2 linked regions of the Homo sapiens genome follow. The protein of the gene in region 2 purifies or fractionates together with the protein of the main gene of each other region. This does not show direct contact. Each region holds a gene or a part of one and is shown on either strand. Other genes may lie near its edges.

Region 1 (3,493 bases), on a different chromosome or scaffold from region 2:
CCTATTTCCTGAGGTCATGCTTTGAACGGTCATAGATTGGAATGGTGATCAGAAAAATCAATTCCTCTCTCAAAACATGCCACTGAAATTCACTCTCCATAAATGTCCTGAAAGCTGTAATAGTTCGGGTGCCACAGGTTAGTGGTTAAATTATTTTGGTCAAGAGATTTTCTACATATTTCAAGTCATGTCATATTTACTCATTTATATCATATTTTTAGATTCCACAATATTTGTTGAAAATTAGGTATCTGCCAGGTCTGGTATTAAGCACTGCAGAGACATGCAGTAGGCTATCATTGATTTATACAGTTCCTATTCAGGTAAAAGTGTTTTTTGATGAAAATATAATTCAATGGACTCATTGTTTACAAACTCATAAGTAAGTTCAGCATGATCTACTGATTCTCAATTTATTTTTCTTCTGTTTATAAAATTACAGATGGCTTATTATAAATATTCATATACACAAATCATTTCCCTCATGAATTTAAATACTACTGCTTAAAATTAGTTCATCAGTCTATATATCTGTATAAGCAATTTTATGTGTAATAAACGAGCCACATTGAATCAAATCAAACATATTATAAAAGAATTCTTGCTTGCTTGCTTGCTTGCTTGCTTTGCCTAGAAAACAAAGAAAGCCCTAGTTGTCCTACAATTGGTCAGAGGAAAACAATCACACTGTACAGGTATGTTGTATTTCTTTATTCTGATAAATAGAGAAAAAACTTATAAACTACACAGCATATGAGATATGATTCTGTAGATAACAACTGCCAACAGTTAAAAGATCTTTAATATTTGAAAAAACTATGTACATATTGTCTTATCAAAGAAAGACCAAAATTTGTCAATTGAAAGCATTAATGAAATATTTTGGTTGGTCCCTAATCCCAATTTCACATTTTTTACCATCTAGATTATACACTGATTTAAAATCAAACATATGAAGGTAAACTCTAAAATCTTCATAGGTCAACAAAGAAAATTTATCCTTCACACTTATTTCTAGAAAGCAGCAGGGCTTATTTCCTAGATTGCTTACAATGAAGCTAGAATATCTGCGATAACTGTAGAGTTTCAAAAAGGATCCCTAGGGCTACTTCTACGTTCTCCTTACCAGTTGAGCACTCTCCATAATTTCCAGACGGGTCATGGGGGAGAATGATAGAAATGAGCGTGGGAAGAAAGACAATGAAATTAGAAATGGGTGAGACACATGGTGGTAGAATGCTAAGAGCAGGGATCAGGACAATCAACCAGGTGTCTAGGAAGGGTCAAGTCACCAGTGTCATCTGCTGACCAATGTTAGGAAGAAATAAACTCAAAGGAAACACCACATTTTTCCAATTAAACTCAAATCTATTGACTTGTGGTGGTTCTTTGATGTTGTGGGGACTGCTATAACAGAAACCAATTGGATTTTCAAGGGCAAGAAACTTTGCCACTGAATAAGATGATGTCATCCTTCCTGATAACAAATAGGAATGGGTGGTCAGCTCTAAACAGCGTGGACTGAGGGAGTTGCTTTTCTACAATATTACTTCCTGTGGCAGCAGTAGCCTCGGTGCCCTCCTCAGTGACCTCTATGTAAGATTTGTGCATCATCCTTGATATATACAGACGACCCCCCGAAGCAATCCCAGAGAGATCTGCTTTGGATTCATCAAAGATATCTTTCAGCCCTAGGGCTCTCAAATATTGTTTCATTTCATAATTCTTCTCTATCTTGAACTGAGGAAAAAATACCTCAACATACTTAGAGGTCATTCGCCTTGGATTGGTCCATTCCATTAGATTCTGAAAGGTCAGTTTGTTTTCAATCTGTAAAAATAATTCAGAGATAATTTAGAATCATATGGTCAAGTGATAGATAAAACAATAGCTACAGAGATACATAGTTTTCTATAATTATCGCTTCCTGGATATTTGTGTTCAAGTACATGAATGTGTCTTGGGCAGTCTTGAAACAGAACATGAATAAAATGAATAGCTCAAGTACTTTTAAACAAATCCCATGTTTAATTTGCTCTACTATGAGAAGGCATGACTTATTTGCACCTTAGGGCAATTCCACTCTCTGCTCACCCATGAGCAGATACAGCCAACGTGGAGCAATAGACAGGTGAAGGAACCTGGGAATTTGAGACCATTAGAGGGAGAAAGGAGCCCAGTGGTCATTTAAATCAATATTTCCTAGCCATCTCCTCATCATGAAAGACAGATAAAATAATGTTTGCACAGCTTACTGGAGTAAACCAAAGGAACCCCACGTGGCCTGAGGCAAGGAGGCCAGAGCTCCAGCCTCAAAGGTTTGGGTGACCAATATCTCCCAGTGCAGTTACCCATACTGTCTGGGAAGCTTGAATTCAAATCAATTTCTTGTTCTCAACAGATGAGGCAACTGAAGTGCAGGAGGATGTAGCTGGATATGCCTGAATGCAAAGCAAGCAACCTTAGTTACACAGCTAGAAGAGTCCTTATCTCTCTCTCCAACAGCATCGCTGCCCACAAACAATTCACAAAGCCAATTCACCAGCTCTTGAATACTGAGAATTGATCATAAATTCTCAATTTAGAATAAGAAGATTTTTCATAAACATTGTTTAGAAATCTTACATAAGGACATTTCTTCCTAAATTCAGGCTCAACTTCAATCCTAAACAACTTTTTACTGATATTAAATTTAACTTGTATTCTTATCAAGGACCTAAATTTATACAATCAAATTTAGTCTAATTTGAATTTTTTGTTTTAGTTATCCAGTTTTGTGGTTAATCTGTAATATATTTTTACCCTGTTGGAATTTTTTTTTTCATTTAGTGCACTGAGATCCAACTTCCTCATCGTTATCTGGTTATGAAAGATTATGCAGGTATTTAAGATTGTATAGTATGTAGGTTTATAATAGTCAGATTCAAACATTATTAGGTAAATCTATTACTGAAAAGGAAAATTCAGACAGTAAGTGCAAGAATAAAACTATATTGTTAGCTTGCTTTATCTGGGCTACTTTTTCTGTTGCAGATTATTTCAAGTTAAACTAATTGCTGTATGCTAAAATCTGACTGTTATGAAGATTATCACGTGAATTATAGGTTTAATATGAGGACCAATATTTTATATGGTCATACTTTAGATTTAATAGTACCAATTTTATGACATTTCTCTTGCTTCTCATGTCAAAATAATTAAGATGAAAACGTAATGAAAGAAAGTTGTTGCTAAAATTCCGTAATCTTTGTCTATGCAGAAAGTGTCATTCCAAAGCTTTAAAGTCATGTTTTTAAATCATACTAATGCCCCTTGGATGGTAGGCATGTCTGTTTCTTTATATTCATTCCCCTGTCCTGTTATTCCACAGCAAATATTCATTATTTTCCAAGTCAAAACAAAACAAATACTTTTAAGTGTATGTAACTTTTCAGTATAGCTGACATACATATATGTGTGTGCACATACATACACACAAATATGCATATCTATA
Region 2 (3,766 bases):
CTGCATTTCAAAGAAAGGGACCAAATGTCATGCATACACAGACATACAAGACAACAGAAACAGCAGGCCACATAATATCTACATTAAACACTGAAGCAAATAAAACTGTAAGTGGCTCTATCCTCCTTTCAAGACAACCTAGATGAGTGGGGAAACCTGCTTTAGAAACCCTGCCCTGCTGTTGTTGCCCAAATGAAATCTGATTCAAATTCCAGAAAAATCCGATTTAACTAATAAGTCTGAATCAGCAAGAATGCCAAGACAGAGAAATCTATTCACATGGTAAAAGGAGTGATGATAGAGAATGACACAATGTCTCTCTGAGTGTCTTATCTGTAAATTCTTATCAAGAAAAGTAACGCTGGGCCAGGCGCAGTGGCTCATGTCTGTAATCCCAGCACTCTAGGAGGCTGAGGCAGGCAGACTGCCTGAGCTCAAGAGTTTGCAACCAGCCCAGGCAACATGGTGAAACCCCATCTCTACTAAAATACAAAAAATCAGCCAGGCATGGCGGTGTGCACCTGCACTCCCAGCTACTCGGGAGGCTGAGGCAGGAGAATTGCTTGAACCCGGGAGGCGGAGGTTGCAGTGAGCCGAGATCGTGCCACTGCACTCCAGCCTGGGCAACAGGGCAAGACTCCATCTCAAAAAAAGAAAAAAATAATAATAGTTCTGTGCTTTCAGACACATTTCTCCTTAATGAACCCGACAGGAGCTAAGCATTCACAGAAGGTAGCAATAAATATTAAAATGACACTTTTGAATAATAAATACATAGGTGAATGTGGAAGCACTGATGTGTTTAAAGAGCCAAGCAATGCCCAATTTCTTACCAATCAACAAATTTTAGAGCTATTATAATGCAGATTTAGAAAAGCAGACATAAATACTCTATGATCCCCCAAGCATCAAAACCAATTTGGTCAGTTCTTCATGCTGCTCAGGAGCAACATGCCCCTTCGGATTGTTGGAGTGTGTCAAATTCTGGTTTCCTTGACTTATTAGATAGAATTCATTACCCACATTTCTAAAAAAGATTAAATAAGGGGAACTGGGTTTTGGAAAAAATCTATTTCCTTTCAGTTTCCTACATCAGTTAAAAGCATCCTGCAGAAAATAGCCTAACAAGGAATAAAAACTGACAATAACTTTCAAGACATAATAATCCAATTAGAAAAAACTGAAGCCTTTCAGTAATTTTTGTACATATATTTACACATATGTATCTTTATATAAACTGCTTGCAGCAAAATAGGCTCCGTCTGAAAAATCAGTCTGGCACTTGTGGTTAACATCAAACTGACACAAATATGCAAAAAGCCGTCCAAATCACACAACAGTTAGGAGCTACATAGGGCAGCTGGCAGGGAGACAAACATGTAGTACTTGCTTGGGTCAGATAAAAGCAGTAAGTTATCCAGCTAAAATCCTTCTGATTGTCTTCAAAAGTAATTTTGATAACATTGGTAAAGTGATTAGCAAGTTTGTTTTCTCAACTGGATTCTCTTAAACCTTTCCCTTCACTGCACAGAAAGGTAACGTTAGGGTCTGGTGTCTTGCAGAAACAAGCCCTACACAATTGAATCCCAATCAAAGTCATCCTGGATGTCATCTGGAGGCAGGGAACGCCGCATCTGGAAGGCTTGGGAAGGCATCATGTGCTGCTGGTTCATGGCTCTGTGATGGCCTGGAAGGAAAGAGGCAATAATAGCAGCGACTTGGGTAGAGAAGAAAGTAAGAAATAAACTAACCCCTACTGTGTACTTCCTATATGCCAGGCACACATTATCTCACTAATTCAACCATAAGCCTTCAAAAAGTGGCTCTTATGATCCTTATTTTATAGGTAAGGGGATACGGTTTAAGAGGATGAGTAAATTACCCAAAGTCACACAACCAGTAGGGGACAAAGATAGGATCTGAGGTCAGTTCACTTGATCCACACTCCTTCCATTATACCAGGCTGCAGTAAGGAAGACACGAGAAAAGTGCCAATGTAGCCACTGCTCTTACAGTCTGTTTTGCTCCAATACGTTGTTTCAGTAACATGAATTGGCTCCCATGAGAATGGTAAACAGGATAATGATGGCAGTGCACCAATGACGTCATACTGAATTTTCCCCAGCAAGCTAATTTCTGTGCCACCAAGTAATGTCAAGTGAACACAGAGGACATCAACAAGGGAACACAGGAAACCAGAAGGAACCACAGCTGAGTACAGAATGCCCACCTTCCCATGCTCTTCTTGTACCAGTTTGGCCATGTGCTGTTTATGCTCCCCAATTTTGATTCATTGGGTCTGTGTCTCCACCGTATCTTGACAGACCCCCCCCTTCTAAACCAGCTGCTTTTTAAAAGTAGAGGTTGATATTTACTTGTAGAATTCTTTCTTTTATTACAAATTATACATATCCTTTTAACTGTTGTGGAAGTTTTACTGGATTTTTTTTTAGTACTCTGATTACAAAATTTCAAGTAGTCTGCTACTCATTTTTCTCATATGCCCTGAAATATTTTCTTGTACAATTATTTAATGCTAAGGTTTTCAGTATATCACAATATAGGTAAAATGCCTCCATTTAAAAAAAACTTATAAGTTCCTTAATGTGGGTCAGGCACTAATTTACATGATTCTCATTCAATCCTAACAACTCGAGGACACAGGTAGTTTTATTAGCCCCTTTTACAAACAGGGAAGCTGAGGTAGGAGGGTTAGGTAGCTTGCCTAATATCACACAGCCATTAAGTGGCAAAGCATGAAGATTCAAACACAAGCAATCTGGCTCCAGAGCCTTACCACCTTATGGTGCCACTTACAAATTAGTAGTAAGCACTCACAACAGGTTAACATTCCTTCCCCCTTCAGCAAAGGACATATCACTTGATCCCAACTCCTTCCTCACTGCTGTCTGCCACACAGTTCTTCAAGGTTTTAAATCCACCCCCAACCCCATTACCTTTATGTCTTTTCCTCAAATAGCCTAAGTAAAGGATTGTGTGGTATGTGAGAAAAACAACGGACTCTGAATCCAGACACTGGGGCTTGAGTCTTGATCTGGCCACTCACTAAACTGGGTGGCCTGGGCAAGGCATTTCTCCTTCAGAGCCTCCATTATCCTAAGTGATCTTTAAGATACTTTCCAGCTCTAACAATGTGCCGTATTCCGCTGGCTAAATGAATCCTGCATTCAAGAACCCAGCGGGAAAAGTGTATGAACCACTTAACACCTAAAATTTACCTTCTCTACAAGGTACTTCCCTGGAAACTATAGCTGGGGGAACTCCATAGGAATGAATGAAGCAGAATCTACAGGAGCTAATAAAGTAGGTTCCTAAAACCTGCTAAAGTCCTGTCAAACACCCTCAACTATGACCCCAGGACTTCTTAGAGAGGCAAGACAATAAATAACTAGAATAAGTAGAATCATTGCATCTTGGGCTAATAAGGACTTCAGGTCCTACAGTCCAAACTCCAACTGATGCTTGAATCCCTTTGCTAGCACAAGTGCCAAGTGGCTGTCCAGACATTGTCCCCTAGCCCCTCTTAACAGGGAGTTCACTCCTTGAGGCAGCCTCATTCACCATCGGGAAAGCTAACGCTTCTCAATATTAAACTCTGGGTAACAACTGACACACACACATGCTTCTCAATATTAAACTCTGGGTAATAACTGACACACACACACACACTCTCTCTCTCACCTGCCATCGTTGTTCCTGGAGTGCTCACACACACACACACACACACACACACACTCACTCTCTC

The links. The genes of interacting proteins can lie anywhere in the genome.
Region 1: the proteins of FOXJ3 (region 2) and SERPINB7 purify together in Homo sapiens (affinity purification with mass spectrometry; one large-scale study listed by BioGRID and IntAct). This does not show direct contact.

The regions. Positions count from the first base shown.
Region 1 is NC_000018.10:63,802,574-63,806,066, reverse strand, and holds the end of SERPINB7 (serpin B7), read right to left. Parts: intron 1,831-3,493; coding exon 1,432-1,830; 3' UTR 697-1,431; downstream 1-696. UniProt on the Homo sapiens protein: Might function as an inhibitor of Lys-specific proteases. Might influence the maturation of megakaryocytes via its action as a serpin.
Region 2 is NC_000001.11:42,178,139-42,181,904, forward strand, and holds part of FOXJ3 (forkhead box protein J3), read right to left. Parts: intron 1,688-3,766; coding exon 1,572-1,687; 3' UTR 1-1,571.